Linked DNA regions of Homo sapiens: region 1 is linked to region 2. The links come from fine-mapping of genetic effects on gene expression. A gene starts in region 2. The other region holds a variant in brackets. All regions are shown on one strand. Distances are between the middles of the regions.

Evidence for each region.
Region 1: its variant is fine-mapped to the expression of MKNK1 in whole blood (TOPMed, PIP above 0.99).

The regions. Positions count from the first base shown.
Region 1 is chr1:46,572,635-46,588,654 of GRCh38, forward strand. MKNK1 (MAPK interacting serine/threonine kinase 1) reads right to left here. Exons shown (of 13, transcript NM_001135553.4): 3 at 10,594-10,695; 4 at 7,896-7,993; 5 at 3,941-4,020; 6 at 2,313-2,386. The coding sequence starts at 10,693. Among named protein-coding and RNA genes, the nearest start is that of MKNK1, 24 kb to the right of the region's middle. The variant AC/A (reference allele first, on the strand shown) is at 8,159.
Region 2 is chr1:46,595,880-46,611,899 of GRCh38, forward strand. MKNK1 (MAPK interacting serine/threonine kinase 1) reads right to left here and starts at 8,389. Exons shown (of 13, transcript NM_001135553.4): 1 at 8,306-8,389. It overlaps MOB3C (MOB kinase activator 3C), which reads right to left. Exons shown (of 4, transcript NM_201403.3): 3 at 14,123-14,325; 4 at 11,840-13,805. The coding sequence ends at 13,776. RefSeq lists enhancers at 7,703-8,203, 7,971-8,020 and a silencer at 8,351-8,570.

The DNA.
Region 1 (16,020 bases), 23 kb before region 2:
GGAGGTACCAGCTTGTATGTCTGTTAAACAAAACTGGACTACTCTCTTCTGTACCTGTCTATGAGGAGCTCAGAAGCGAGAGAGAACAACTATAAATAGGGCCAAAAAACACTAATGATGCTGAGGCTGATTTGGCTTCTGCAATCAAAAGGAATAAAACTGAAGGCACTTGGAGCTGAGGGGGCCTTTCTGCAGCAACGTTTTCTCCCCTGCATCTGATCTCTGATCCAAACAAGAGCACAAACTTTCAAATGGAAATGCCACACCCTTGCCAGACATGTAAAGGCCTGGGAAAAGGGGGGAAAAATGGGTTTTCCGCCTGAGCTTTCCCATTCATTATTGTTTTGTTGGCAATGGCTAACATTTACTGAGTAGTTACTAGTGCCATGTGCTATGGAATACTCTTGAAATAAACTGTCTTATTCTCACCACAATTGGACAAAATGGGTAGTACACTTATTCTCGTTTTACAGAGGGAGATCCTGAAGCCAAAAAGAAAAATGGTTGAGCAACTTGCCCAAGATTACGCACCAGTAAGGGGTGAGGCCAGGACTTAGGCCCAGGGCGTCAGTCAGGCCTCCGAGTCTGTGCAGACATCCCCCAGCAGGACTTGTGGTCTGACTGCTGCAGGGATGGACTCTCTTGAGCCAACCACACTGGGTCTGGCCTCAATAAGCTACATTAAGTTTACTGATATGGCGACAGAGGATCCCATCTGCATGTAGCATTTCAAACATGTAATTAACAGTCAGTCATGTGTTATTGGGTGGTGCAGGGGCAGACACAGGCAGGAACATGTGGCTTGGCTTCATGTGGTTTATGTTTACTACTAGAAGCCAGCATTTCTGGGCTGAAGGTATTATCTCTCTGTCCTAAAAATGGCACATGTCTACTGTTTTTTAGGGGGGATGGGGAGGGCATGAGAGAAGGGGAAGAACTGCCAAAGATTGTTCGCTTGCCAGATTAAACAACGGATCCCAATGTGCTAGGGAACATTCCCAGAAAACCGGCTCATGACTAGGTCCTAGCTTGCTCTGCTGTAGTGAGCCTCGTTTCCAAATCTGTTAAAAGGAAAAGCAGAGAATAATGCTTTACATACTTTTTTTTTTTTTTTTTTGAGACAGAGTCTCACTCTGTTGCCCAGGCTGGAGTGTAGTGGTGCGATCTCGGCTCACTGCAACCTCTGCCTCCCAGGTTCAAGCGATTCTTCTGCCTCAGCCTCCTGAGTAGCTGGGATTACAGGCATGTGCCAGCACACCCAGCTAATTTTTGTATTTTTAGTAGAGCCGGGTTTCACCATGTTGGCCAGGCTGGTCTTGAACTCCTGACCTCAAGTGATCTGCCCACCTTGGCATCCCAAAGTGCTGGGATTATAGGCGTGAGCCACTGTACCTGGTCTACTCTACATACTTCTAAGACATCCCCCAGCATACCAAATTGTTTTAATAATATTAGCAGCCAACATTTATTGGGCCCTTAGTGCCTACCAGACACTGTCCTAAGCATTTCACATGAATTATCTCATTTAATCTTCACAGCAACCCAGTGAGGTAGGTGCTATCAATATCTCTATTTTATAGAAGGGAATATTGTTTAGAAAAGGTTAAGTGACTTGCCCAAGATCACATGGCTAGTAAGTGATGCAGCTAGACATAACATAAGCTTTAGCTGTGTTGGTTTCTAAAGCACGCTCCCTCAACCACCAAGCCCCTCCGTGTGGCCCTCCATGCAGTTCCAGACATCCCTGCAAGTGTGTCCTAAGATTGGGGGAGTGATGGGAAGGGAAAGGGTTTCTCTACCCCACCTCATTATGTCAGAAAAGCAACTTAAGTATACACCCCAGTGATTATGTGTGTGGGTGATGGCATCTTTCCATCTGAAGGATGGCACATTCTCAGGCTTCCCCTTTATCCTGGGTCTGTGTCCCAAACAATAGGACCCTCCTCTCCTCTGTTTTAGCCTTTCTAGACTTCGCAATGTATTTGAGAGCTTCCACCCCATAATTAATGTAGTTAAACAGTGAACATGTCAAAACGGGATTGATAAATCGATGACTAAATGTATCTATATATGACTCCTATTATAATGAAAAGGCATTTATAAAATACCCACACAGGTGACATTCTAAGCTCTGCAAAATGCTAATTATCATCCTTCCCTCCGGCCTCCCTTCTCCCAAATCAAGGGCAGTTTTTAAGTCCTTCATCCTTTTTATTAGCTTGACTCGTTTTGGAAGTCTCTGGGATTCATGATGGATGATCACCACCCTGGGTCTTAATCAGAAGTCCACACACATACTCAACGGTAAGTACCTCCTTGCAATTTCTCAAAGACCAAGTAAAACCTTGTGTCATCTTCAAAGAACTCAATCAGCTCCAAAATGTTCCTTAAATAGGGAAAATAGGAGGAGAGGGAAAAGGGGGGAAATGGTATTATATATTAAAGTCTACTTACAAATATACAATGAAAAAAATATACAACACCTGGTAGTGGGGCAGAAACCAACTTGAAATCAGAATGCTTATTAAAGACCCGCGTATGGAAGCAGCCAATGGTGTTAGCAAGATTCAGGTCACCTTATCTTTCCATAATGTTTAGTCTCTGGTGTTTTCACCAAGTCTGTGCTGTCAAACCCCAGCCCTAAAACCCACTAGGTAGAGTTATAAAAAAGTCCCGGTCACATTAAACTGAATAAAATCTGCAGCCGACTGGAAGCAATTGCGGCTAATAACACTGAATACTAGGTGTGTGTCCTGGAGGCAAGCAGCAAATAATTACTTGCCCTCCCTCTTGCCCATAAATCACGGGGCAGTATTTACATTGCCTGGAGAAAATGGAAACATCTGTCAAATGGACTTGGGGCCTAACATGGGCACCGCTAGACCCTAACTGCTAAGCGCTGCTTAATGAAACGGCCGCGTTCCTGGCCACTGTAGCACTTGTGGCCTTCCCCGGTGAGCACTCTCTGTCTGCCCGAGTATTTCAGTGCTCTGCCAACAAGGTCGTCTTGTAACTCAGTAGGGAAGCCACCAGCCTGGATATTGGAGGTGTTGTGGGCTTTTTTTCTTTTACAAAATAAAATAAACCAAGTAGAGTCTCTAATGCTGAACTAAGAAGCTGCAGGGCTGAAAATAAAAATCTGTCCCTCATAAAAAAAATGCTGACTACTTTGGGAGATATGAGGCTTTTACTAGTGTGAAGGCATCCAAATAAGATGGGCAAAATGGCCTAATTTGAAAGAAGATTGTGGAGGCAGTGCCTGGAGTTAAATCAACAGCAGCCCCCGTCCTCCAATCCTCCAAGCTTAATGACAAAGCCATCAATACCAGGCCACTGGCTCCCTGCTGACCCTACCGTGGAGGGAGAGAGGGGGAAGTGGAGTCTTAGAGGTGCCCCTGATTTAAAGCCACAGTGGGAGAGCTGCTCATTTGGAGCTGGTGGTGGGCAGAATGAACTGGGGCTAGAGATGAGCCGGACCCAGCTATCTGGAAGGTTCCAGGATCTTAGTGGTATCTGCACATATGTAAACATTCTAGGAGCAGAAACAGCAGCAAATATTCTTAACAGTTCTCCTCATCTTGGTATTAAGGCAAGTCCTTAAAGATTTCTACCAGGCAACACTCAGTCAACCTAGTTTCCACAGGTACCGAAAGAAATAAAACCCCATTTCCCCCCAACAACCACTGATTCAGATAGTTCATTCTTCTAACTTGCTTGAATTGATGATATTTACAGTATTTCAGAAGAGATAATAGCTCCTTTGCTGTTACTGCTGCTTTTCCTTTCTCTCCCTAACACTGAAAGGGGCGGAAGGAGGTACCTGCCTTGTGGGGACAGGAGTGAGAGCTAAATGCTGGAGTCAGGAGATGGTAAGAAATAGCCTCCTCTTCTGTGGCCAAGCGTCCCCCCAGAGAAGCAGCGAGAATCACATGATACTCACTTGTTTCCCTGACACTGATACAGCGTCTCCACCTCTCGAAACACCCTACTCCGACTGTGCCCTGCTTGTTTCTCGATGATCTGTGGGAAGAATAAAATCTGTCATGTACACCCACCTGACTTCCAAACAGCCCTTTGGCAGGAGTCCTCTGGGAGAATGCAAGGCCACACTCAGTCCAAATCCAGTGTCCAGCAGAAGTCTGGCCTAGGCCTTGGTGACACCGGCACTGTGGCTCTGTTGGCAAAGCAGCAGACTGGCCTCAGGGCTTTCCAGCTCAGCTGAGCCCATTCCACTCTGGCCAAGCACAACACCAAGGAAGTGAATGAGGCTGCTGCCCCCAGCTGCCCAGGGGAGACTGAGGCAGCCGGCAAGACAAAGAGCTACCTTACTCAGCTCCACCTCCTGTGGACACCTCTTTCTGCCTTAAGGGTAAGCATTTACTGCATCTACTGAAGGATCTTCTCATGCTGGAGGGAGAGGCTGATGCAGGACACCGTGGCGAGGAGCTAAAGCTTTGACACCCAGCTCAGAGGCTGCCTCCACGATCCCCCTGGCAGAAGTAGGCTCTTCCTCTTCTGAGAACTTACTCTCTGGCAGATACTGTGTTAAATGATTTATTTACGGCCGGGTGTGGTGACTCACACCTGTAATCCCAGCACTTCTGGAGGCTGAGGTGGGTGGATCACCTGAGGTCAGGAGTTCTAGACCAGCCTGGCCAACACGGTGAAACCCCGTCTCTACTGAAAATACAAAAAAATTAGCCAGGCGTGGTAGTGGGTGCTTGTAATCCCAGCTACTCAGGAGGCTGAGGCAGGATAGTCACTTGAACTGGGGAGGCGGAGGTTGCAGTGAGCCGAGATTGTGCCATTGCACTCCAGCCTAAGTAACAGAGAGACTCCATCTCAAAAAATAAATAAATAAATAAATAAATAAACAATAATAATTTATTTACATAATCTCAGTTGACCTTTATGACAACATCAAAAGATAGGGAGGTATGAAACATTTGCCTGCAGTCCAGAGCTGACTCCTAAGCCCTTGCTATCCCATACCTGCTTAGATGCTCTAACTTCTTCGAGGACCTGGAGGCTTTGTCTCTCCTGTGATACGGTGGGCTGCTCCCCCTCCACACTTTTACCTGAGATGCTTGTCAAATGCTGACTGAAGGAACAGATAAGCCAACAGATGGGAGGGTGGTTTCCAAAGGGACTGGCTGCCTCTGCAAAGCTCTCTGGACCCATCTGGAGCCTCAAACCACTGCACACCGAGCCTGTGAGCAAATCTGCAGAGCCTAGCTCTGCCTTACAGCTCCAACGTGCACAGTGGGCAGCACAATGACATCCTCTTCCTTCATTGAGACTTCAAACTTCTCCGATATGATGTGGCACAGACATCTGTGACCAACTGCAATTTTCTAAATAAGTGTGTCTGTTTGTAAACCACAGTGGGCCCATTATCTGAATGGAGAGGTGTAGTGCTGGGGAACAGAAGTGATTCAACTTCATTCCCCAAGCATTTCAGATCAAAGTCATGAAGAACTTTCTAGCAGGCAAGCCTTCCACAGCACAGTCTTCTCTGAGGAAGTAATGGGCTCTTGCTACTAGAGATGGGGGAGCAGAACATGGACAACTATCTGGGGAGTCAGAGGAAATTCAGGGTTATCTTGAAATTCCATCCCAACCTTGAGAGTCTAGGATCAGCTGGGTGCCTATAGGAAAAGCTGTAATAAGCTAAGTATTGTGGGGCCATGTTGGGAGAAGTAGCCCATCTCTAGGGAGCTTTGAAAGAGTAGGGGAGAGAAGAAACATGGGCAGAACTGCTGAAACCAAGGAATTGCCAAGCCAGAGTCCAGTGTTTGCCTCAAAGATGCCAGGGGGGATGTGGAGGAAGGGCCAGGTTTTCCTCCCATTATCCAACCTTGAAGAAATATACCTCTCATCCATAAATGTATTGAAACCTTTGAAAATCAGTTTATGTTTGTGGTTTTTACCGCATTTAGACAGATATATCAATTTTTTTTTTTTTTTTTTGAGACAGAGTCTCCCTCTGTTGTCCAGGGTGGAGTGCAGTGGCACCATCCTGGCTCATTGCAACCTTTGCCTCCTGGGCTCAAGTGATCCTCCCACTTCAGCCTCCCAGGTAGCTGGAATTAGACGCACATGCCACCACACCAGGCTAACATTTTTTTTTTCTTTTTGTGACAGAGTCTTGCTCTGTCGCCCAGGCTGGAGTGCAGTGGTGTGATCTCGGCTCACTGTGCAACCTCTACCTCCCGGGTTCATGGGATTCTCCTGCCTCAGCCTCCCAGGTAGCTGGGATTACAGGAATGCACCACACCCGGCTAATATTTTTGTATTTTTAGTAGAGATGGGTTTCACCATGTTGGCCAGGCTGGTCTTGAATTCCTGACCTCAGGTGATCAGCCCGCCTCAGCCTCCCAAAGTGCTGGGATTACAGGTGTGAGCCACATGCCTGGCCTAATTTTTCTATTTACACTTAGGCGTATGTTTTAAAAATCACTTGTAATTTATACTGAGCTGTTTCCCAAAAGAAATTAAGACAGTGCTCTTGTTACCATGTGAAGCAATACTCCAGCTGAAAGGAACGTGGCTTAGCAGACTTGCTCAACCTTCTAACCCGCAGCTGGGACTGTGGAAAGTTGGTTCAAAGAAGAGAAAACATTTCCTTCAGGAGCCCACTGGGCTGGGATTGCCAATGTGAGGTGGCATTTGACCTGGTGGCTCAGGTGGGTGATTTGAAATCAGCTTGGATTTAAAAAGACCCTTTCTCTAGGTCAGTTAGTCCTCAAACTTTGGTGGCTATGAGACTCAAGTGGGGAATCTGGTCAAGCCACAGAGATCCAGACCCTATCCTACATCTGGAAACCTGGATCTGTGTGTGCTTTGTTAGAGCTCTAAGGGCTTCTAACACATAGTAGCATTCACAACTGCCCTTCCTACAACAGTAGTCCTCAAGGATTAGTGAGTGTCAGAGTCACCAGGAGAGTTTGTTAACATTTGTATTGCTGGGCCCACCCCTGTTTCTGAGTTGGTACTTCTCAGGTAGGGCCAGGTAGCTTCTATTTCTAACAAGTTCCCAAGCGATGCTGAGGCTGGTCCAGGGCACACATTTTGAGAACCACTGCTCAAGATCCAGCTCTTCTTCCATGTGGAGAGGGCAAGTGGAGGCACAGAGGGGTGACATGAGCCACTCCAAGGCCTTACAGCTAATTAAAGGCAGCAATGAGGCCAGAAGCCACTTCTCCTGCCCCAAAACTGAGTGCTCAGTCGCTTTAGTTTTGTTTTCTTCTTTTAATTTTTTTTTTCTGAGACATCATTCAGATGTTACCAAATCAGTCACCTTAGTTTTTAATCCTCACTATCATGCTAACATCTAACACTTGGATAGCATTTTGTGACGTGTAAAGTGTTTCCACCTCTCCCAGGATATTTTAATTTTCATCTTCATAACTGCCTCAGGAGACTGAAGGGCAGGTATCATCATTTAGAGATGTAGGAACTGAGGCTTACGGACATTTGATGACTTGCCCAAAGTCAAACAGTTATAGTTTGTCAAAATAGATATTCAGGTAGGCCTTCTAATTCCAAATCTGGTTGTCCACTCCCTGAAGCTGACTTCATTTGTCAGAATAATGAGAAACTTACTATGAGCCAGGCATTGTGCTAAGCACTTTACCTATATTAACTTATTTAATCCTCACAACAATTCTACATAGGTTCTAGTATTATACCCATTTTACAGATGAGAAAACTGAAGGACAGAGAAGTTAAGTAACTTGCCCGAGGTACACAGTAAGTAGAGAAACCAAGATTTGAATCCAGTGAATACAGCTTCAGAGTCCCCATTCTTATGGAATATAACATTTATTTGGTTCAAGATGAGCTAGGAATGACTATTTGCAAAGTAAAGCCTGGCATTCAGCTGAGACACTCACTTTGACGGCATACTCTTTGCCATTCTGTAGGCTCACGGCACCTTGAACTTTGGCATAGGCTCCCTCTCCAAGCAATTCAGAGGTCAGCTTGTACATATCTAGAGGTGAAATGGATGAGAGGAATAACAAGATGAGTCACCCTACTGCAAGCTCAGATGGGAAGAACTTTTGTGGCTCAGCTTCCCTGATCAGACGACACAGGCACCCAATGACTCTAGCACTCAGTGACAAGGAAGACAAGTAGCTTTCCCAGCCACCTGAGG[AC/A]CCAGTTTCTCAACAACAAGACCACATACAAGGCATCCTGTTCCTCATTTTAGCGATGAGGTTAGCAAAAGGGTCTCAATTCGGCACATACTTCCTGAATATCTACTATGTGCCAGACAGCATAACAGAGTAAGGAATAAAATAAAGGCCAGGTGCAGGGGCTTACACCTGTAATCCTAGCACTTTGGGAGGCCAAGCCAGGAGGATTGCTTGAGGCCAGGAGTTCAGAACCAATCTGGCCAACATAGCAAGACCCCATCTCTAAAATATATATACGCATGATCCCTCTCCTCTAAGGGTCGCAGTCCAGTGGGGAAGACAGACACATACACAGGTGACCCCAGAATAAACCAGGCATTGGTAAATACTATCACAGAGGGACAAAGTACAGTTAAAAAAAAAAGTTGGGGGAAGAAAGGGTTAAATCTGTTCAGAGAGGCTGGGCATGGTGGCTCACACCTGTAGTCCCGGCACTTTGGGAGGCCGAGGTGGGCAGATCAAGAGGTGAAGAAATCGAGACCATCCTGGCCAATGTGGGAAACCCCGTCTCTACTAAAAATACAAAAATTAGCTGGGTGTGGTGGCACGCGCCTAAAGTCCCAGCTATTTCGGGGGCTGAGGCAGGAGAATCGCTTGAACCCGAGAGGCGGAGGTTGTAGTGAGCCAAGATCGTGCCACTGCACTCCAGCCTGGTGACAGAGTGAGACCCCATATCAAAAAAAAAAAAAAAAAAAAAAAAAAAAAATTGGTCAGAGAATCTGGAGGATCATCAGAGGAGAAGTGGTATGATTTGAATGAATATTCATTTACTCATTTACTGAGCACCTATTATGTGCCAAGTTCTGTGTAAGCACTGGCTATACAAAGGAGAATAAAACACTGTTCTATTTTATACCCCATACATGGAAGTCATTGGAGGCTTCTGAGAAGTCTCCAGAAGTCACCCACAGGAAATAGAAGTAGGATGCAAAGGACACCTTGAGGTTTTTAGGGTACTGAGTCATAGTTGTTCTAACAGAGTAATAGACCTGGGTTAAAGGAACATCTAGATGACCTGCCCAAGCTCACAAAGAGCACAGCTCTTTGAGCCCCTTCCAAAGGAGGCTACATCTCCATCACAGCACTAGCTGCCTGACCTCATCCCCACTCGGCCTCCATTCTTCAGCCTTTTCCTCTTGAGGCACCTAGCATTGAAACCCACAGCCTGAGCAGAAGACATTTCAACCATGAATTAGATTTTATCACTCTCAGTCAGGAGAAGTCCTGTCATTGCACAAGCTGTCCTTAAAAATAGGAAGTACTCTCTTGTGTTAACTGAAAGAGCAAAAGAGCTGTTGATTAGGAAACTATTTGAATACCTTGGGATCTTTGTCTCTCCCCCATCCCCATACCCTGACACACACAGACACACACACACAGACACACACCCCTGCTGTTTGAGTTAAAGGCAAACAAAAAACCCCTGCTGAAAGTACCTTCTTGGTTCCATCACGGTTTGGTCTTTCAGTTGTTTATAAGAGCAGATGGCACACTGTTATTCGTAAGTGTTTTAAATGACATGCTTCTCACAATGGACACATTGGCATTAGCCCTTTACACATATCAGGATAGGTGGGTGGCTGGAGGTCCCATATTCCCAACCGATAAAGTGCTTGTTATTGGAACCACTTTACAGAACAGCCAATTCACTAGTGTGTCTGGAAGGCTGGAAGGAGGGACCAAGAGGCGAAGCTACTTCAGACCTCACAACGAAAGAAAACAAAACAGATGAAGTGGGGCACGTTACTCCTAGGAGTAGCTACTGATCCTCTTGGTGCTTTGCACAAGTGTCCAATCACCCCATCACATGCCCAGTGATAACAGGACCCACACTGAGCCTAGTGCCTCGCACACAGAGAGTGTCAAAAAATGTCTGATGACCCAACATCGTTTCTACTGAACACAACACGTATTCTTTAAAATGTAGTCAAACACACACAGCATAAGTAGCTACAATCTGAGAGACAAATTCTCTGCTTACAGGAGACTGAAGTTTCATTTGCGGCCATGGCCTTTGGTGTTTCTCTCTTCCTCTTATATAGTTCTATCTCTCAGCAGCCCCTCCAGGAATAGCTGAGGGAAGAATCACATCTGAAAAAAGGAAGACCCCAGGCAATGCCACTGATAGATGGGTCTTCCTGCTCCCTGAAAAGGAAGCAGTACCTGAGCCATTCACAGGAGGCCAGTGCATCATCTGAGAGCTTTTTCCATCCCTGCTCTCTTTCTGTAATGCCCTGTGTAAACTCCCTCATCCCCATCTTATCTCCCTACCACACAGATAACCACCATCTGGCTCTAACTTGACGCATTCTGTGATCGGACCTGTGGCTCCCGGGATGCTCCTCCCATGCTTGGGAAGCTGCAGGCCCAGATATAGGGAAGTTGTGTGACCAACCTTCAAACTTTCCTGGCAAGGAGTCAGTGGCCCGGCCCCTCCGCTTCTTCTTCCTCCTCCTGTCACCATCTGCGATGGGAAGGGGTTCGCTACTGCCCATCTCTAGGAGATAAGAGGAGATGTAAGGGAAACATCACTGTACTGATCAAGCTGTAAATTTACCCAGAAGGAAAAAAAAAAGGTAGTGGGGGAGGACCCAGGAGGTTTACACTGATGGTTTTTAAATATCTGTGAAGACTATTGATTTGTTTTGACCTAGGAGGAAAAACTAAAGGCAAAGCCATTATGGGAGATCATTAACTGTGGAAAGGAGCTCAGACAGGCAGGCTAGATTAAAAGAGGCCAGCGGAAGCCTGCTTTAACCAAGCTCATTAGCGCGTGGATTTAGATCTGCCACTGGTCAAACCATATTCCCCAAACAGAACAATGACTCCATAGGCAGAACCCCACCTGTGACATCCTCCAGCCTCAGCATCAGAAAGGCAAAACCGAGAGAGCTAGGCAAGAAGGGGGTTGGGAGTGGGGGACCATGCAGATGAGTCATAGGCTCAGCAACATCGCTATGGATGCACACAGGGCACAAATGGCCTGGAGTGGAGACAGCCTCTGTGAAGGTAGCAATAGGGCTGGGGTTCAAAATAGCCCCAAATTACTTCATGTCCAAGAGCACGGACTTGAGTGCCTATGGAGCCTACGGCATCCTCTCCTCCCATAGCTCCTCCATCGGAAGGGCTGCAGGTAGTGCCCATTCAGAAGTCGGCAGTTGACAGGTCTGTGCCAGGCTGCTGGATGAGGTCACTTATTGCAAAAAACCTTATTATCTTTCATTGGCAAGCACCTGGCTCCCAATCTTAAAAGGAGGATTTGTGAGGCAGGCATTCAGACACTGCACAGATTGGGCAGAAAAAGTCCGGATGGAAAGAATAAGCAGGACACTGAGATAGGAAAGAGAAAAGGAGGAACAGTGAACCAGTGCCCAATCACAGTCCTGTTTCTAAGACACTCTAGTATGGGCCTTTCCCTGTTAAAGATAAATTACTTATAGAACATGTCATGCCCCTGATCCAGAGTGGAGCTTTAATACTCTTTGCCTGCAGTTAGAAATAATAAGATTTCTCCGAAGTCTCTGGGTCTAAATCCCCACCAGCGTGATTAAACCTTTACATCCTTCTAAAATAGAGGCACTCGAGTGCTGATGGGGCATACGATGTGAGAGACTTTTAGACCAACCTTCAATAAACACAGGCTCTTGGTTGTTGGTGTTTTTTTTTTTTTTTCTTTCTTTTTTTTCTGAGAGCTTTTAAAATGGAAGCTGGTTCTTTGCCCATTGAGGGGAAAGGCCCACTCTCTTCTCAGAGGATCTGGCGGCATACGACCAGAGAAAGAGCAAGTCTGCTAGGAAGACTGATTAGTGCTCATGCAGGTCCATACACTGTTCTCAGACGCAAGTACGTGACAGCCATCCGGAGAGAGCACACAGGATGGCACTTTCAACACCACAATCCAGAAAGCATGGTTACGCAGCCAAGTGCCTGACAGCTCAATTTAGGCGCATTCTTCCATCCATTTTGGGGATCTGATGACAGCACATTTTAAATTATAGTTTAGAATGGGGAACAGATAAACACACAGATAAAAGAAATCCACAGAGCATCTCAAAATATAACTCTAGCCAAGAGCTTCAAACACAAGATATATCTGGGGACTGCAACACCCTATGAATTGAAAGAATTAAACATCTGGCTAGGCACCATGGCTCACGCCTGTAATCCCAGCGCTTTGGGATGCCGAGGTAGGCAGATCACTTGAGGTCAGAAGTTCGAGACCATCGTGGCCAACATGGTGAAACCTGTCTCTACTAAAAATACAAAAATTAGCTGGGTGTGGTGGCGGGTGCCTGTAGTGCCAGCTACTCGGGAGGCTGAGGCAGGAGAATCGCTTGAACCTGGGAGGCAGAGGTTGCAGTGAGCCGAGATCACGCCATTGCACTCCAGCCTGGGTGACAGAGCAAGATTCCGTCTCAAAAAAAAAAAAAAAAAAAAAAAAAAAAAAAAAAAAAAAAAAAAAAAAAAAAAATCAGCACCTCAACACCCACCCTCACCAAGGTAAATTAAAAGGAAAAAAGCTGCCCAAATGTATAACATGGTGAGAAATTCAGCAGAAATAAAACACAGGGTCACTCATCTTCAGGAGCTCAGGGAGGGGGTGCTGGCCATCGGGGCAGCAGGCTGAGAAGGAGGAACCATTGTCTCTCTCTCTTGCGCTGACCTTGAATGCAGTCCAGTGGCAACCCGTGTCTGCATCTATTTTCTCATCGGCACCGCAGGCCCAGTGCAGAGGAAACAGATTTGGGTTTCAGCTCTTTCTCCTTCCCCTGTCCACACTTTGATGGAGGGCCCCAGGACAAGCAAAACAGCCAAAAGACAGGCAGAGCAGAGGAGCAGCAAGAGGGCTGGAGGCATTATAATTCACAGGGGACACTCAGGCACACGACTCTAATGAGAAAACCCTGTTAGCGACAATTTATACTTGGTCTTTACCACAGCAGGGCTGAGGGAGCCGCTTGCACGAGAAGCATACCTCACAGCACCACCGCACACGTAACATTAGATTTTATGGCTTCACACACACACAAAGACAGAGTACCTGGTATATTCTGCATGGATTTCAATGAAAGAGGGTACGCCAGAAGGGACAAATGGTTAAGACTTTCCTTGGAAATGGAACTTGGAGAGTTGTTTCTGAAACTAGGAAGGAAAAAATGTAGGAAGATGGGTGAAGTGAAAGAAACATGCTTAGCTTCCCTGGTTACACAGGGGGAAGCGAGAGGTGTCATAATCTCACCAAGGGGTCGCTAGTTGCCCATGTGGAGCCTGGCCACACACTATTTTCATCACAGAGTCCACTAGCAGGTCTGTGGGGCCTTAATTCATCATGCAAACACTCATGGGATAAATGCTGCCTCAGGGAGTGGGACCCCCGCAGTAAAGCTGCACCTTGGCTCACCTGCTTCCCTTGGCCTAGGAATTCTTCTTGGTCATCAAAAGCCGGCTCGATAGTCCCAACCCTTTTGCAGCTCCCTGATAACTCCAGATGAGTTAAGGTTTCTACAGAGACTCTGGAAGTCAGTTAGGTGCTATGCAAATGGAGGGTGTTACTGAGCAGAACTAGTAGTTGGTGCTCCATCCTCTGCTCCCAAACACCCTGCGAGAAGCTCCACGAGGGCACTGATTTTATTTGGCCTTGAGTGCTCCCCTGTGTTCCTAAAGGCTGAGATTGTCCCCTGTTCACTTGTTTCTCCTACAGATCATGGCACAGTGTCAGACACATAGCAGCCATCAGAAATTGCACTGAAATAGAAATGATATGAAATGACATGCATACTGTTAGGTGTGGGGTATGTCACACTGGCCTTTTAGGTACCCAGTGCACATCCTGAAAGAAACATGGGTACAACTTTGCCCTGTAGACAATGCAGAGTAAGGCTACTTAGTTTTATGAATCCAGTTCAGGAATTCTACTAATTCCTGGATAAACTCCCTTTCGAAAAAGGGTCTAGGACACAAAACGTCCTTCACTTTCTTATCTTTTCTTTTCTTTTTGAGATGGAGTCTTGCTCTGTCACCCAAGCTGGAATGCAGTGGAGTGCAGCTCAGTACAACCTCTGCCTCCCGGGTTCAAGCGATTCTCCTGCCTCAGCCTCCAGAGTAGCTGGGACTACAGGCACATGCCACCATGTCCGGCTAATTTTTTGTACTTTTTAGTAGAGACGGGGTTTCGCCATGTTGGCCAGGCTGGTCTCAAACTCCTGACCTCAGGTGATCCGCCTGCCTTGGCCTCCCAAAGTGCTGGGATTACAGACGTGAACCACTGCGCCCAGCCAGGTCCTTCACTTTCTAAACAGAAGCCTGGTTCTTGCTATAGGATTGGGCAATGTGTCTGTTATTACAGAGGAAGAAGTGAGCACTTCTTTTCAGTTTCAGGCAGATCCCAGCTGGTCTGGAGGCTCCCAGCACTTCCGCTGCCTCCAGCCCTTGCCTTCCTCTTGGGAACGGCTCGGCGGTCCACCACATGTGTCTATTAGTGGAGGTGGAAGTGGAACTGAAGAAGCAGCATGCTGCTTGCTGACAGGGAAGGCACACAGGCTTGGCATCAGGCGAGCAAGGCAGAAGCCCTGGTTCAGATATTATAACAGAACCAAGGCCAAGTTACTGTGCCTCTTAGAGTCTCAGTTTCCTCATCTATCAAATAGGTTTAAAAACACACCCGCCCTGTCTACCTCACAGGTTGTTGTAAAGACCCAATGATGGCCAGGTGTGGTGGCTCACACCTGTAATCCCAGCACTTTGGGAGGCCGAGGCAGGCAGATCACCTGAGGTTGGGAGTTTGAGACCAGCCTGACCAACATGGAGAAACCTCGTCTCTACTAAAAGTACAAAATTAGCCAGGCATGGTGGTGCATGCCTGTAATCCCAGCTACTCGGGAGGCTGAGGCAGGAGAATTGCTTGAACCCCGGAGGCGGAGGTTGCGGTGAACTGAGATCGCACCATTGCACTCCAGCCTGCGCAACAAGAGTGAAACTCCGTCTCAAAAAAAAAACAAAAAATACCCAATGATATACTTCACATAAATATGTTTCCAAAAACATATGCATATGCACAGGTATGTATGCCCATATATGAACCCAACAGAGTAGAAAGACTAGACAGAAATACGTAAAACTGCTAATACGCTACAATTTTAAAAAGTGCCAACTACATGGATATTCTGTACATATTATCTCTAATTCTTATCATAATCTCAAAAGGTAAATATTTTTGCCATATTTCAGGTAAGGAAAGAAGCTCAGAGCAGGCAGCCAGTAGATTAAATAACCTACCCAATGCCAAACATCTAGTTAGTGGTTTAACTGGGATTCAAACTCAATGCTGCTCTTTCAAGTCCAGACCATTTCTAATCCATAAGAGTTTTCTCTATGTGATGGGGTGATTTTTATTTTCTTTTTTATATTTTCAGTATTCTCTAAATTGTACACAATGAAATTTATTTTTCCTGCTATTATTGTTTAACTCACGTTTTATTTTTAAATAAAGTACACCATAATCTTTCTCTAATACACATTGGAATTTGGTATCTGATTTTAGTTTTTAAAAATGTTTCTAGATTTCTCTGTATTAAAATTCAACATTCAGTGATGAAAGAAACATTTTAGGAATATTGGTGCCATGAAGATACTAATTTCGCAATCATTCAAAACAACCAATGTTATTTTTATTTTTTAAAAAATGCTACTTCTTGGCCGGGCGTGGTGGCTCACGCCTGTAATCCCAGCACTTTGGGAGGCCGAGGCGGGCGGATCACGAGGTCAGGAGATCGAGACCATCTTGGCTAACACGGTGAAACCCCATCTCTACTAAAAATACAAA
Region 2 (16,020 bases):
TAGCTGAAACTACAGGCACGAGCCACCACGCCTAATTTTTGTATTTTTTGTAGACACAGGGTCTCACCATGTTGCCCAGGCTGGTATTGAGCTCCTGAGCTCACGTGATTTGCCTGTCTCAGCCTCCCAAAGTGCTGGGATTATGGGCGTGAGCCACCACGCCTGGCCTTGAGCTTCCATTCTGTCTTTAGTCTTGTCATAGGTTTAGACCCCCACCTGGTCCCTTCTTGTTACCTATGGTAGGAGTTGGCAATTTTTTTTCTGTAAAGTGCCAGATGGTAAATATTTTAAGCTTTGTGTGTCACATGATCTTTGTTATGACTCAATTTTGCATTTGTAGAGAGAAAGCAGTAGACAATATGTAAATCAATGATTGTAGCTATATGTCAATAAAACTTTATTTTTGGACACTGAAATTTAAATTTCATAGATTTTCATGTGTCATAAAATATTGATCTTTTCTTGATTTCTCCCCAACCACATAAAAATGTAAAAAGTACATTAGTTTGCATCCACACTAAAACAGGCAGTGAGTCAAATATGGCCTGTGGGCCATACTTTGCCAACCCTTGGCCTACAGTAGAAAAAAAACCCCTCAGAATTCCTTATGGGCTTTGTGTTATTTTGCCACGTGGAGCCACCTTAGGCTGGGGAAGTAGAAAGCACAGGGCTTTTGGGCATTAGGTCCTAGGTTCCAGTTCTGGCCCTACCATCTACCAGCCGGGTAGCCTTGGACATAAAATTCAAACTCTCTGAGCTTTACTACCATCATCTATAAAATGGGGCAATAACACCTAGATCACAGAGTTGTCATGGCAATTAAGTGAGCTAATGTATATAGAGCTCGTGGCACCAGTATCTGGCATACAGTAGGCACTCAATAGTAACTCTTATTCCAGCTTCTGACATGGCTTCTCCAGATCAACTGCAGCTCTGGAAAGCAACCCAGCCAATCTGTGAACCACAGTTGGCCGCAGGAGGGAATAAACTGACAGCAAATACAAAGGCAGAGAGAGAATGTGGAGGTTTTCAGATACATGTCACAGGATTCTAAGTGCCTGGTTAGCCCTAATTCCTTCTGGCACCATTTAAAATTCCTCTGGTCCCTTTTTCCTCCTCAAAAATTACTTCTGACTCTCACAGTTCTTAAAGATTCTTAGCATTCTTTACCAACTACCCAGATGGACCCTGGAGCCCTCTCCTCATTCCTGTACCTCCTGCTGGTATAGGGCTGGGGTGGGGAAGGGTGACCATGGCCAGACCAAACCTACACAGATCCATCGGCCTGCAGCTGGGTCTTAAGTAGGCTGGGCCTGGCGAGGCACCCAATTCTCTCTCAATTGTTCATGAATTTCTTGCTGTACTGGGAATTAAATTTCTTCAGTGCTTAAGAACTAGACCTTCTACAGACGTTTTAGAGCAAAAAAAAAAAAAAAAATCACCATGTATACAAACAAAAGATCCATCACATTACTTTCAAGACAGAAAACATCAGTGAGGCACAGGTAAGGCTAAGGTTTATGGCATCTCTACCCTTGGTCCAAAAAGCCAGATCTCGACCTGTTACTTCCTTGCTCTAAAACTTCTAATGGGTGTCCACTGCCTCTGGAGTAACCAAGCTTCTGTGCTGTCACTCACGGCCTCCATCAACTTGTCCCAGACCAACCCTCTATGGGAGTCTTAACCTGCAGTCTCGTCAAAAGGGACTGTATTTCCACCTGATTGCTCTAACCAATTCCCAGCTTCCTACACTTGTGCATAATTAAATTACCTGTAACATTTTATTACGCATCTTCCCCTAGACTGTTAGCCAGGGACAGGGTAGAGACTATGTCTCCTTCATCTCTGGGACCCCTACACCTAGCAGAGGCTCTGGTATGGGGCAACCACTTCATAATTGTTAATGAATGGATGGAAACAGCTGAAGTTATTCTTCCCTTAAGCTGTTTTAGCTGGACTCTTATTAGAAGACCGAGTACAGTCTGGGTCACTGCCACAAAGCAGAAAAACCGAAGAGAAAGAAAAGAGGCATGACCAATGTGATCCAAGCAATGGAAAACAGGTTTTAAGAGTGAGGTTAAAGAGACCAAGGCTGTTTAGCCGGGAGAAGAGAAGATGAGGTTTAACTGGATTCTGGCTTTAAGTACAGAAAAGGTTCTCATGAGAAAATCTTGATCTCATCCTCCCTTTAAAATCAGAAGAAACTTTTCCATATTCATGGAAAATGGAACAAGAAGAAATGGCTTAAGTTAAGGCCTGAAGGGTTTAAGCTGGACAGAAAGAAGAACCAAATTAGGCACCACTTTTCCAGAGATACTGTTATTGTACTTTTGGCAAGTGAATTGGAGGAGTCTTGCTTGGCACTCTTGTTGAAGGCTGTGAAAAAAGTAATATATGTGCTGCTCTGTTCCTGTTTACTGTGGAGAGAGGTGAAAACACAAGTCAGGTAAGATTTTCTAACGAGCCACTGATTTTTATTGACCCATTTCCTACAGGCACTTTCTGCCATGTTATGCATTGCAACCATGTGCTGGAACAATCTAGTATCTCAAAGGTTCCTGACAGGGCAATGGAAAGAAAGAGAAGGTAACAATGCGGGGGAAGGGAAAATGGCCCTAATAAATATACTTTCTATAAAAACAGTACCAAACTGGGCATTCATATATTTATTAATATTATTACTATTAAAGCTCACATTCATTGAGCACCTACTGTGTGCCAGGCACTGTGCTGTTGTATCTCAATTCTCATAACAACCCCATGAGGTAAGTAATATTTGTATTCTCATTTTACAGATGAAGGAACAGAAACTCAGGAAGATTAAATAACTTGCCCAAGTCACACAGGTAGCAAGTGACAGAGCCAGGACTCAAACCCAGATAGCCTGACTCTAGAGTCCACATACCTAACTACTGTCTCTCTGTAAGGATGAGAGGCTGGAATATAAACTCTAGTCTCTCTGAATCCTGTTTATATTCTCAGTTCTTCCTCATACAGTCCCAAGCCAGGACATTAGCAAGAGTTGAGGCCTCAGAAGTGAACCAAAATACTCCTCTGATTATCAGCATCTATAAAATGGGGGCAATTACACCCACATCACAGAGTTGTCATGAGAATTAAGTGAGCTAATGTATATGGAGCTCATGGCATCAGTGCCTGGCATACAGTAGGCACCCAATAACTAGTAACTGTTATTCCCGCTTCTGATATGGCTTCCCCAGATCAGCTGTGGCTCTGGAAAGCAACCCAACGACTCTGTGAACCATAACTGGCTGCAGGAGGGAATAATCTGACAGCAAATACAAAGGAAAGAAACAGACTGAGGACTCTCAGATGATAATGAGCAGGTGCAGGACTTGAATGCCAGCCTCTGCACTCCAAGTTAGTGCTCTGTCCTACTTACAGACTCTTGTTGAATTTGAGGGTGAGAAAATGAAGAGACAGGATGTGCCAAACAGGCTGCCTCCCCCGACAGACCCTTTTGTAACGTCAATCTCCCATCAGAACCCATGCCTGAAATACCAGGGTCCTGCAGCTTCTGTAAACTGGTTCTAAGATTCTACTAGCTAAGGATGGCAATGCACTGATTTATGGCACTGTGGGTGCTGCCAAAATGATCACCTATTAAACCTATCAAGCAGACCTAGTCCATGCAGCTTCCAAACTAGGCCAGTGATTCACCGTTTAAGCCTCTTCACTGATGTCCCCATTCTGGGACCATCTTTGCTCCAGTCTAACCTCCGTCCTGCTGCCAGAGAAAACCGAGCGCCAGTCAGGGCATTTGGAGCCTCTAGCATAAGGAAGATAACATGGGCCTTTGAACTCAGCACTGCTAGTTTTGAACCAAGCTGTGCCCTTACTATCTATCTAACCTTGGGGAAGTCACTTTAATCTTTCTGAGGTCTGGTTTCCTCATCTTTAGATTGGAGATAAATAGGCCTATATTACAGGATTAAATATAGTATGTAAAGCAACCAGCATACTGCAAGCCACAAAGCAAAGGAGACACTTTATAAATGCTAGTGTTCTGCTCCCTACTCCACTCTCTACATTTTAGCCAAAATCTGCCAATTCGGCTTACTTCTTCTCCTCACCAACTCCTCTCCCCTCCCACAACACACACACACACACCCCTACACCTGAGCATTTCTGCCTCTCAACTGTTGCTCAAGCTGTTCCTTCTCCCAGGAATAAACTCCCTCCAAGGCCCAGCATAAATTCTCCACCTTCAGGAATCCTCTGGTCATGCTGGGATTGATTTCTCCTTCTTCCAAACTCCCACTTTGTTTACATTCCTTACTACATTTACCATAGTCAGTCTGATTTCAGTTATTTATGTACTTATCTATCTTCCCAACTACACTGGAGGGAGAAGGTTCTGAGAAGACAATTATTTATAGGAGGGCAGGAAATGTGTTGTTTTCCTCTGTGTATATTTCTCAATACCAGGGTCTTGTACATAGCAAGAGCTCAATATGTGCTTACCGAATTGAATCTTTCCATCCTATACTGGGAATCTTTACAGAAAGATCCCAGACTGAGTTCATTCTAAAACTGCATTTACTGCCTAACTTGATAAATAGGCAATTTTTGAAGTACATGAATATTCCTAAACTAAGATCCGCTAATACTCATGTGGGCTTGTTTCATTCCTTCATCCATTCTTCCAATACACTCTGGACTCTTCTTGGGATCTCTCTCCAGCATATAAGGAGACATTGCTGGGACAACACTTCTCACTCACGGAGATCTGGGAGCAAGCTCTTTGGAGAACTGTTCCACCCCACTGGGTAGGAGGTGACTGCCATTAAAACCACACTAAAACCCAGAGTTGTGGAATTGGAAAATAGATCTGAATGATCTGCCTTAGTTTCCAAGCTATAACACAGAGTTAAAAACACTTTTAAAAACAGTGTCTGGAACACAGCAAGTGTGCAATAAATGTTCGATGTTGTATTAACAACGTAGTAGACTGAAAAAACAGAGTCATGACATTTCACTTCTAGAACTATCTCCACTACTGACTGATTCCTTGTGTAATCTTTTTTTTTTTTTGAGACAGAGTCTCACTCTGTCGCCCAGGCTGGAGTGCAATGGCACAATTTCAGCTCACTGCAACCTCTGCCTTCTGGGTTCAAGCGATTCTCCTGCCTCAGCCTCCCAAATAGTTGGGATTACAGGCACCCACCACCATGCACAGCTAATTTTTGTATTTTTAGTAGAGATGGGGTTTCACCATGTTGGTCAGGCTGGTCTCGAACTTCTGACCTCAGGTGATCCACCTGCCTCGGCCTCCCAAAGTGCTGGGATTACAGGCGTGAGCCACACACCGGCCTCCTTGTGTAATCTCAATCAAGTCCTTTCCCCATCTATAAAATGAAAGTGGCGGAACCAGATGGTTGGTTTCCAAGCTCCTTCTACCTTCAACCATGTAAATTTTTCTCTGATCAAGAAATAACTTTCTCTTCCACATGCTGAGGCTGTTGGCAAGGGAAAATGTGCATTTATAGCTGCTGGTCCCCAGATGGGAGGAACCACTGTTTCCCAAGGCCAAGGGCAGAGTAAACTGATTAGAAAACCACCTGTGAGCTTTCCCCTGTTTGAACTGTACTATTAATACACCCAGTGCAGGTCTCTGAACACAGCATTACCTACCTTCCAACAAAACTCACGGTCAAGGCAAGACAAGAGCCTGAAAACAATGGCTGCAATGAAGAATGCCTGCTTGTGCAGAATTCTTGTACTTTCTTGTTTTTGATGCCTGTAATTAGGGCATCAGTCTAAACTGGGGCCCTCCTTAGGCACAAAGAGGAGGAAAAACACAAAGTCCCATTCTGAACCTGACAGCTCATAAAACAAGGGCCAAACCTAGTAAATAAAAAATGTCACTGACTCACTTAACCACAAACACTGAAGAGGCCTACTATGTGCTGGCCCTATGCTGGACAGAGGAGGAAGGAAAGAGACATGGTCCCTTGCCACCCACGTACTCAGAGTACATATGGAGTGTACATATCCCTAGGCAGACTATGATGAGAGCTATATTAGAGGGTCAGCCTTTGCTACAGAAGATGGAAAGGGGAACAACTAATCCAGCAGAAGGCTCAGAAAAGCTTCACCATGGAGGCCACATGAGATGTAAGAGATGTAAGCCTTGAAAGATGAGGAGGAGGAGGGAAATCCAGGAAGAGAGAATATAAGCAAAGGCTCGAGCAGGAACATGCAGGGAGTGTTTGAGAAACAGAGATTTGGCCGGGCACGTTGGCTCACATCTGTAGTACCAGCACTTTGGGAGGCCCAGGCAGGCGGATCACCTGAGGTCAGAAGTTTGAATCCAGCCTGGCCAACATGGCGAAACCCCGTCTCTACTAAAAATACAAAAATTAGCCGGGTGTGGTGGCTCATGCCTGTAATTCCAGCTACTCAGGAGGCTGAGGCAGGAGAATCACTTGAACCTGGGAAGTGGAGGTTGCAGTGAGCCGAGATTGTGCCACTGCACTCCAGCCTGGGTGACAAAGTGAGACTCCATCTCAAAAAAAAAGGAGAAACAGAGACAACTAGTTTATTTTGACTGAAGCACAGGTTGCAGGTTTGGGAAAACCAAGGGAAACAGGGAGGGGAGAGGTGTGGGAACAAATTGTGCAGGAACTTGTCTGAGGCTGGAGTCCAAACTCTACATCCAGCTTGTCCAACCCGCGGCCCTGGATGGCTCTGAATGTGGTCCAACACAAATTCATAAACGTTCTTAAAACACTGAGATTTTTTTGCAATTTTTTTAAAGCTCATCAGCTATTGTTAATGTTAGTGTATTTTATGTGTGGCCCAAGATGGTTCTTCTTCTTCCAATGTGGCCCAGGGAAGCCAAAAGATTGGACACCACTGCTCTATATAGTAGGCAATGATGCCCACCAAGGTTTCCGAGTAGTGTCTCAGGAAGAGCACAAGGGCACCCATGAAGAGGATGCAAAAGGAACTAAGTAATTCAATTACTCTGGGACCACATTACAGGAGACCACATGCACTTTCTAAGCACGTGCTGGGCTCTGACAGCTCCTGTTCACAGAGCTTCCCTCTCCCATGGCTTCGCTTCATGCAATCTGAGTTGCCATCCCCCACAACTGTCAACATCTGCAAAATACCAGAGTAACAGGACTCCTAACCAACTCTCTGGATTACAGAGAGAGAAGTGTTGAGGTGGGAGCAGATGGGCAGAGGGGGCACCAAAGCCTCTAGCTGGCTCAGTTCCATATAAAACCCAACCCTGGATTTCCTCTTCACATCACTTCCAGCCCAGCCCTCTAATGAAGGGCTGAAGCTAAGGAGAGTGGGCTGAAAGCACCTGGCTGATGGGTGGTGATCCAGTGAGACATTACACCTACTGTCCAGCATGTGCCTGGCGCATGGGCAGTGGTGCCCTTCCCATTCTGCAGGGTCAGTTCCATCTGTAAATCCCACTGAGGCTTCAAGGCCCAGGTCACAACAACTCTTCTCTCAGAGCCTTTCTAAAGTACCCCAATCCAAAATGACCAAGCTCCTAGAAATCACAGCTACCATGTATTCAGCACCCATTACATGACAGGCGCCATACTAGGTGACTTCCATATAATCCTATTCACCCTTCACAATGACCCTATTATGGCCATTTCCTAGGGAAGAAAGTGAAGCTCTGGGAGGGGAAGCAGACTTGCCCCAGGACACACAGCTAAGAGGTGGAAGAGATGAGATCTAAACCCAGGACTCCCTGACCCTGAAGTTGAGCACTTCTAACAACACTTCATTCCTGTGAGCCTGCCTGCCTCTGATCTGCCACTGTCAGGGAGCTTGGAGCTCTCTAGAAGACAGGGTGCACCTGACACTCTTATTACCTTTCCCTGTGGACAGCCATCCACACAGGCAGGAGCCTTTAAATACTGAAAATAAATGAAAACAATTAACTTAAAAATAACGCAGTACACAGATTTCACAAATTCCTCACGTGAAAAACTATTCATGATACTGGACTGCCTGAGCCCTGCGCCCAGCCATAGCCTCGGTCCTGATCCCTGGGAGAGACTGAGTCTCAAACGGGCCACAGAGTAAGCGCCATCTCGGACACCGGCCACGCCCCGACCCCAGGCACAGAGGTCGCAGACAGCTCGGGACAGTCCTGAAAAGCGTCCCCTTAGGCTGTCCCTCCGCAGCTGAATCGCGTCGTGACCTCGGGCAGCCGTGAAGGCCCTGACTGCCCCCTTCCGGGCACACGAGCTCACTCACAGACCCCGGCCCCATTTAGCTCGGAGGAATACCTCGCAGGTCTCGCTTTTACCTTCGCTGGCTCCCGCCGGGGAGCGGTCGCGCGCACCCCTACCTGCAGATCGCTCCTCCGAGAACGCGGAAGAGGCGGTGCTAGATCCAGGGGGTGGGCCCGATCAGAGAGGAGGGTGAGGGGGCGGAGCTGCGCCTGCGCCCTGATGGCTACCCAGGGCCGCCTGAGGGCAGGGGGCTCGAGCTGAGCGAACTGCGCAGGCGTGACAGGGAAGAGGCGGGGAGAGGGGAGATTGCTGGCAAGCGGGTGGGGCTTAGCTCCTCCGGCGCTTTCTTTTCCGAATGGAGGGTGGAGAAGCCCGGGAAGGTAGGAGGCCGGGCGCGACAGGTGTAATTAACATGTACTGAGAGCTTCTGCAGGCCAGGAAGGAATTTTAAAATGCCTTTTATATGTGGGGAAATGCTGCTAGTCTTTTCTAAAACGGGGGCCAATTCTGTACAATTTCTTTAAAAGTCTGAGTGCCTAGAATTTCACCATAAGAGTTTCTCCTTGAGTACAACATTATCCCCAGTATTTCAAAATTTTTAAAACTTTTAAAAGTTCATTTCTTGGGGAAAAACAACTGTAAATAGGTTAATGCCTCAACCAGTCTCCCCACATCCCCTTCCCAAGTCTGCAGCTGCGATGAGAAAGGATGAGAGTGTGGACTGGGATTTAATTCAGGCGCTGACTCCGAGTGATGGAGGTGAACATCCCTTCCCTGCCTGTCTCAGGATTATCGTGAGGATTTGGTAAGCCAAGCTAGTTAAAGAGCCCCAGGGACTTGCTTCCCATCATCCACCTGACAAACATTTGTTCCCTGTCTTGTCGGGGCTGTCTTTTCATCTGTATGATGGAAGGAGATTGGGAATATTAGTGAACATTCAGGACTTTGCTAGATTTCCCAATCTGGGTGAAGGCCGGAGAGGCGGAAGATCAAGCTTCTGTGTTCATTCCCTTCTGGAATCCTGCGGTCCAACCTGAGGGCCCCGATGTATCCTGACTTCTCCCACTCATTACCTTCCGTGGAGGCCGATCCAAGCTTCAAGTCTTCAGAGGCCCTGCTGGCCTGTTCCCTTCCCTGTTGCCTGTGGCAATAGCCCAAGAGATTCAGGACCTATGTTCCAGGTTCTCAAAGTTGCTATGTCCCTCACATGGCAATCAAATTCAGTTAACATCTTTGAGGGCTCTGGGGGTGCTCAGAGGAAGGAGGGCTCCCCCAAAGCAGGTGGAGCTCTAGTCATGACTGTGGCTTATTTCACCACATATTCCACAGCTTGCTGTGGGGTAGGGAGGAGAGGCAACAGGAAACCTCAGAGGCTGCAGTGTTTATGGGAGCCGAGGGTGATGCGGCATCCTTTACTCAATAGGTGGATGCTCTGCCCCAGGCTGGAGAGGATGGCTTACTACCTAGGTCCCTGCTCCAAATATTGTTTTGGAATTTTTTTTCTTTTTTTTTTTCTGAGACAAGGTCTCACTGTGTTCCCCAGGCTGGAGTGCAGTGGCACCAGCTTTGCTCACTGCAACCTCTGCTTGGGCTCAAGTGATCCTCCTGCTTCAGCCTCCTGAGTAGCTGGGATTACAGGCATGCACTACCATGACTGGCTAATTTTTGAATTTTTTTAGAGGCAGGGTTTTGCCATGTTGCCCAGGCTGGTCTCGAACTCCTGAGCTCAATGATCCTCCCACCTTGGCCTCCCAAAGTGCTGGGATTACAGGGAAGAGCCACTATGCCCAGCTTTGTTATGGACCTTGAGCCAACAGGAAAATAAAGCCCAGCCTGACTTCTCAACCAAGCTGCCACTCTACCTCCCAGGACCCTTTGTTACTAGGTTTTGCCCCATGGGAGTGTGCTCTTTTATCTGCATCATTGAGGCCCTATCTCTTTCTTTTCCCCTTCTCTTCCTTTCTGTCTATTCTTCTTTAAGCATCCCTCTGTGAATCTCTCAAAGCAATTTTGTGTCAGCTTCCTAATGTATTTACAGATATTCTCATGTAAGGTGCAGGTCTTGGGTCACACAGTTCTAAGATAAATCTACTCTCACTGCCATGGTCATATTTCAAAATGACCATGAACCCAAAGCATGGGACTTGTAACAGTCTGAGCTGTCCAATGACAGAGGAGGTAGTGAGCGATCTGTTATAGGAGGTGTGCAAATAGCACCCTTTTAGAATGCTGGGATTGGGCCTCCTGTGGTGAGCCAGAGGAAGAGGCAGCAGAATGGAGGGCCTTCCAGATTCTAGAGGAGTGACTAAAGGCAGGGATATTGGGGGCTGGAAGGGAAGCAAGGCAGCTGGCCAAAGACACACTTGATTCAACAAGCTATTATATGTCAAGCACTTAGAAGTGTACCTGACACATAATGAACATTAGCTGTTATGATGACTGTGAATGATTCATAGACTATATAATGAAGGAGCTGAGATCAATCAGTCCTTCACTCCCATCACTGATAACAAAATAGATGAAGGGTTGGGGTCTAGAGGGGGAATGGGCTTGCAATGGAACTTCAGGAGCTGGGCTGGGGCTACAACCTATGCCTTTGCCTCCCAGGAGAGCCTCTGCACAAAGCCAGGCTGGCTCCTTTGCAGGAAGAGGGAAGAGCTCTAGATGGGCCTTTGTTGACTCTTAAGAACCAAGCTGCTTTTTAATTCCTGCCCAGGCAGCTTGTGAGTTGGGGCAGTGGAATGACAGCAAGACCTGAGCCAATAGATGCAGATGTCTACTGGGGAGTAAGCTCAGGAGTCAGGCCCATGTCCTGCCACCCCCACCGTAGCTCCAGCCAGCAACAAGTATCTTCCTCTTCAGGATGGCCTCCTGTCCTGTAATTAGTGTTGGGATTGTATTTCCACTCTGTCCTTTTATCTACTACCTCAAAAAAAAACCACCCAGAGTAAGGGGCTGGAGTGAGAATAGCCAATGCCAGGCCAGGCGTGGTGGCTCATGCCTGTAATCCCAGCACTTTGGGAGGCCGAGGCGGGTAGATCACGAGGTCAGGAGATCGAGACCATCCTGGCTAACGCGGTGAAACCCCGTTTCTACTAAAAATACAAAAAAATTAGCTGGGCGTGGTGGTGGGTGCCTGTAGTCCCAGCTACTCCGGAGGCTGAGGCAGGAGAATGGCATGAACCCAGGAGGCGGAGCTTGCAGTGAGCCAAGATCGCGCCACTGCACTCCAACCTGGGTGACAGAGCAAGACTCCATCTCAAAAAAAAAAAAAAAAAGAAAAAGAAAAAAAAGAATAGCCAATGCCAGGCAACCTGAGATGAAACAAGGAACGATTCCTATCAGACTGAGTTCCCGGAAGGCAAAGAAAAGCCAGGCTTCTCCACCCCAAGCGTCCTAGCCTAGCTCGGTCTAGAATTTCCAGAGCCCCAGGAGAATCTTTGTGTCCCCACCCTAGAGAGCTGGGCCAGACATGACCACACCAGCCAGCCCTCCACATGGTCCAGTATCTCAGGACAAAAAGCCTTCCCAGCCCCATTCTGGCTCAGTTCCTTCCATGGTCTGCCAAGAGCCATGTGGCACCCAGATCACCGCTTCCCACCAGTGGCTGCTTTAGTTTGCCTTTTATTTTACCAAAAATAACAACAATAAAGTCTTCCCTCTGTTTCATAAAAATAAATTTTCCAACCCTCCCCCTATCCCAGAAATCAGCCCTTGCCACAGCCTAGAATCCATCATGCAAGTCACAGCACTCTGGGAAAAGCTCCTACTACCCTCGCTCCACAGCCTCTGGCAAAGCTGCCAGGCCACTCTGGAGGCGGCAGAGGCAGAAGTCCCAGGCCCAGCTGGCTGGGCCCAAGAGCTCCATCTGTTTCCCCAAAGTACAGGCAGCTTCTAGGCCATTGAGTGGGGCATGATATTGGATGCTTGGCTCAGGAAACAACCCCAGCCAACCCAAGGGGCAGTGGGACATGTTGGCCTCAGGTTAGAAATTATTGCTCAAAGCAGAAACAGTTGTGTCCTAGAGAGGGTCTGTTAAACCCTCTTTCCATGTGTATCTCTATGTAGCAATTGATGGGCCCTGCGGTCAGGATCCCTGGTTTCTCCAGCTCCATGAATGCCTCCCTGTGAGGCCCTGGACAGTTTCTCCCTCTTCTTCTCCTGGCTTCAGTTTCCCCGTATGTACATTGAGACAGTAAGACTGGATGATTCTCAGGTTCCCTCTGGCTTTCCATTCTGGCATCCCAGAGTGGAGGCTCTGGGAGGGCAGAACCCTGTTCCTGCCTCAGTTTCCCCACCTGTGGGTCTGCGTATAGGGCTGGGTATGGAGGTACTGAGTAATGGAGTGCTGCGTGAACATCCCAGTCTCCCTGTGGATAGCTGTGCTGTGAGATCCAACTGGCTGGAATGTGTCAGGGATGGCTGGGAAGGAGGCAGGTACTTTTAGGATGGAGGATCTCCATGCCTGGAAGAGTCCATTCACCAACTACATCCTCAATGTGCTGGGATGGGAGACAAGACTCCAAAGTTCCCAATTCAAGTTCCACAAGCTCCTTGGACGGGGAGATTATTTTGTGCTGGGCTTCAGATCCGAGGAGCCAGGTCTGTAGATTCTGGGAGCTAGAGTGGAGTATATGATTCCCAGATGAAGGGCCAGGGGACCTTTGTGTACTTGAGGGATCATCTCCAACCCCCAGGAGGACACGTATAATACAGGCCTTCTTGGAGGCAGAGGGATGAGTAAAATGTCAGCTCATGGGCATCTCTGGGTAAGAGAATCAGAGCCTGTGTCTGCAGTGGGTCGGTTTAGGAACTCAAGGCAAGGCTCCTCTTCCTACGTTCCCCCAGCTCTCCAGGACTCATGCTGATGGAAGAGTGTAGCCTGGAAGGTTTGAATGTAGAGCAACATCTACAACCACATTTTTGTGCACTTACACACATGGTCAGATACACTGAGTGGGGACGCTGAGCTGTCATCACTCCTACAGTGGTCATGGTCTGATGGTCCCATGGTCTGATGGTCCCAATCTATTTATCCATCCATCCAACATTTATGGAAGGCCTACTATGTGCCAAGGAGGGGTAAGGCAGCTAGCTCTCACAGACACACCCCACAGTGAAAATCACACACACACACACACACCCCGGCATCTGTGCTCACTCACAGGCAGACTGCTCACTTTCTTGCACCTTTCTTGCCATCACCTCGGCCACACCCACATTCCTCCAATAGGCTTGGGAACCAGCATGGAAGGGTCAAGTGTCATAGAAGAAACCCCCTAGCCTACCCTACTCCCAGACTTCATGCCAGAGGTTTAACTCCACTTCCCTTCTGTTTGCCTGCCTAGATGCTCTCCCCTTCTCCATCCACAAGCGGTCAGGGCGACAGGTAGGCAGACTCCTGAGAACCAGAAGTCCAGAGGCTTTGGGTGTGTGGAGTGATTCCAGTGCCTTCAGATTCCTTCAGGCTCCTGGGGGTCCCCTCTGCCAGCCACCCTATGTTCAGATCGTCCATCTGATGGCCAAAAAAGTCCAGACCTGGGCTCAGTGGCAGATCCGCTCTGTCATCTCCCTCTGTAGAGACACAAGGTAGGGAGGGGTCAATTAGAGCTCAGCCTACTAGGCAATCCCTTCCCAAACCATAGGGCCTAGCTGCTCTTCTGTCTGAGCCTGGCCTTCCCCCAGCAACCCCAACTCTTAGGCTGCAGATCTGGGTTTGTAAACCAACACTTGAATGAATTCTCTATTGAAGTACAGAATTCACTGTTAAATGAATTGCCTTCCCCTAATTCATCTACTTGGGCGTTGGAGTTACTTAAAGCAGGCAGCTTTTGGACGTGAAAACTCAGAGGCTAGCCTTGGTAGGGGAGGGTGGTAGGGCTTGGCCTCACCAGTGGCTCCAGCTCCCGCTGGTCCACCAGACTGAACTCGCGGATGAAGTAGTAGAAGTGCTTGTAGCAGGTGTTGACGTGCGCCTCTGCCCCCATGCTGAGGATGCTATCGAAGTGGTGGATGTAGACATGGACAAAGACTCGGAAGAGGCGGGTCAGGATCTTGGTGCAGACCTGCTGGAAGTTCTTAGGGAAGGGAACTCCTAGAGGGCAGGGGAGGGCAGAAGGGGATCAGTATCCTGGTGCCAAAGCTCTGCTCAACTTTTCCCTCCCACACACAGGCAACCAGGATGGCTTTTTCCCCAGCACACTTTTTAGTACACTTCCCTTTGGAAAACAGAGAGTGGTTTGACTTTCTCCCATACTTTTCTTTCTTTCTTCCTTTCTTTTTTTCTTTCCTTTTTGAGACGGAGTTTCACTCTTGCCCAGGCAAGTGCAATGGCATGATCTCGGCTCACTGCAACCTCCACCTCCCAGGTTCAAGGTATTCTCCTGCCTCAGCCTCCCAAGTAGCTGGGATTACAGACATGTGCCATCATGCCCAGCTAATTTTGTATTTTTAGTAGAGACAGGGTTTCTCCATGTTGGTCAGGCTGGTCTTGAACTCCTGACCTCAGGTGATCCACCTGCCTCGTCCTCCTAAATGCTGGGATTACAGGCATGAGCCACTGTGCCTGGCCATACTTTTCTTTCTAATGAAGCACAAATCTGACTGTGGCTCTCCCCTGCTGGAATATACATCATCTTCCACATTTTCCCATTACCTAAAGCAGGGCTTTGCAAACTTGTGGGGGTCACTGACCAACCCTTTTTAGACTATGATAAAAGTTACGACCTAAACTCTCCCCAGAAATATGTGCAATTGCAGAGATGCTCACATCACACTCTTGTATACAACTCCAAGGAGAGTTCAACAACTGGGTCCATTTAAAAAATCCCTGGGCCTTCAGGATTAAGTCCTAACTTTCCAGCAGGACGCTGCTCAAGGCCTTTCATGATCTTATCCTGACCTCCCTCTCTAGCCCCACCCCATGTCCCTCCTCTTTTCAACATTCACACAGAAGTCCTCAGACCCCCAATCCTGGAAATTATGAATTCTGCAAGAGTTAGTTCAGACAGCCCTCATTCCTTCAAATATTCAACAACACGAAGAACCTTCCATTTATGAGCAAGGCCTTGTGCTGGGCCCTTCACACCTTTTGCCTCTAATCCTTAGAACAATTCGCCTGATGTGTCTGATTGTCACTTTAGATATGATAAAACAGAAGTGCTTATAAAGGTGAAGCTGCTAGCCCAAGGCCACATAAGTATTAATCAGTGCAGAATGGAGACTGGATTCAGACCCTCTTTGCAGTGCACTGCAGCGACCCTCACAGATATTGGGACCCATGAAAAAGGCCCCGCTTCTGCATAGTCCCCCATGCTCAAGGCAGAGATCTTGGTGGCTTATGCCCTCTTCTCTGTGTGGCAGTCACCCAGGGTTTTAGGCATCGATACCTGGAGTCCCACAGGCCCAGGGAGGTATGGCCAGCAGGGACTATGAATCTACATTCAGGTCCACAGCTGGCCCACCCGGCTCTGTAGACCCCCTCCTCTTCCTCACCATTCCCAGGTGGGGTCGAGCCTTCCCTCCCTCTGAGCCCCTCCAGCCCAGCCCAGATTCCTCAGACATATCCTGCCCATGTAGACTTGGGGTCCTGGGCTCCCACAGATCTGAGCCCCAGTTCGGAATTCCTCCCAGTTCAGTGCACTTTCCCTCAGTAGCCTCAAGTTTCCTCCTATGTAAAATGAAGGTGCTCCTTGTCGGGCATGACAGTGCAAGAAACAGCAGGCCACTGGCTGGGGAGGAGCCGTGGGCATTGAATTGTGACTCAGTGCCCAGCTTCCTTCAGCATTCA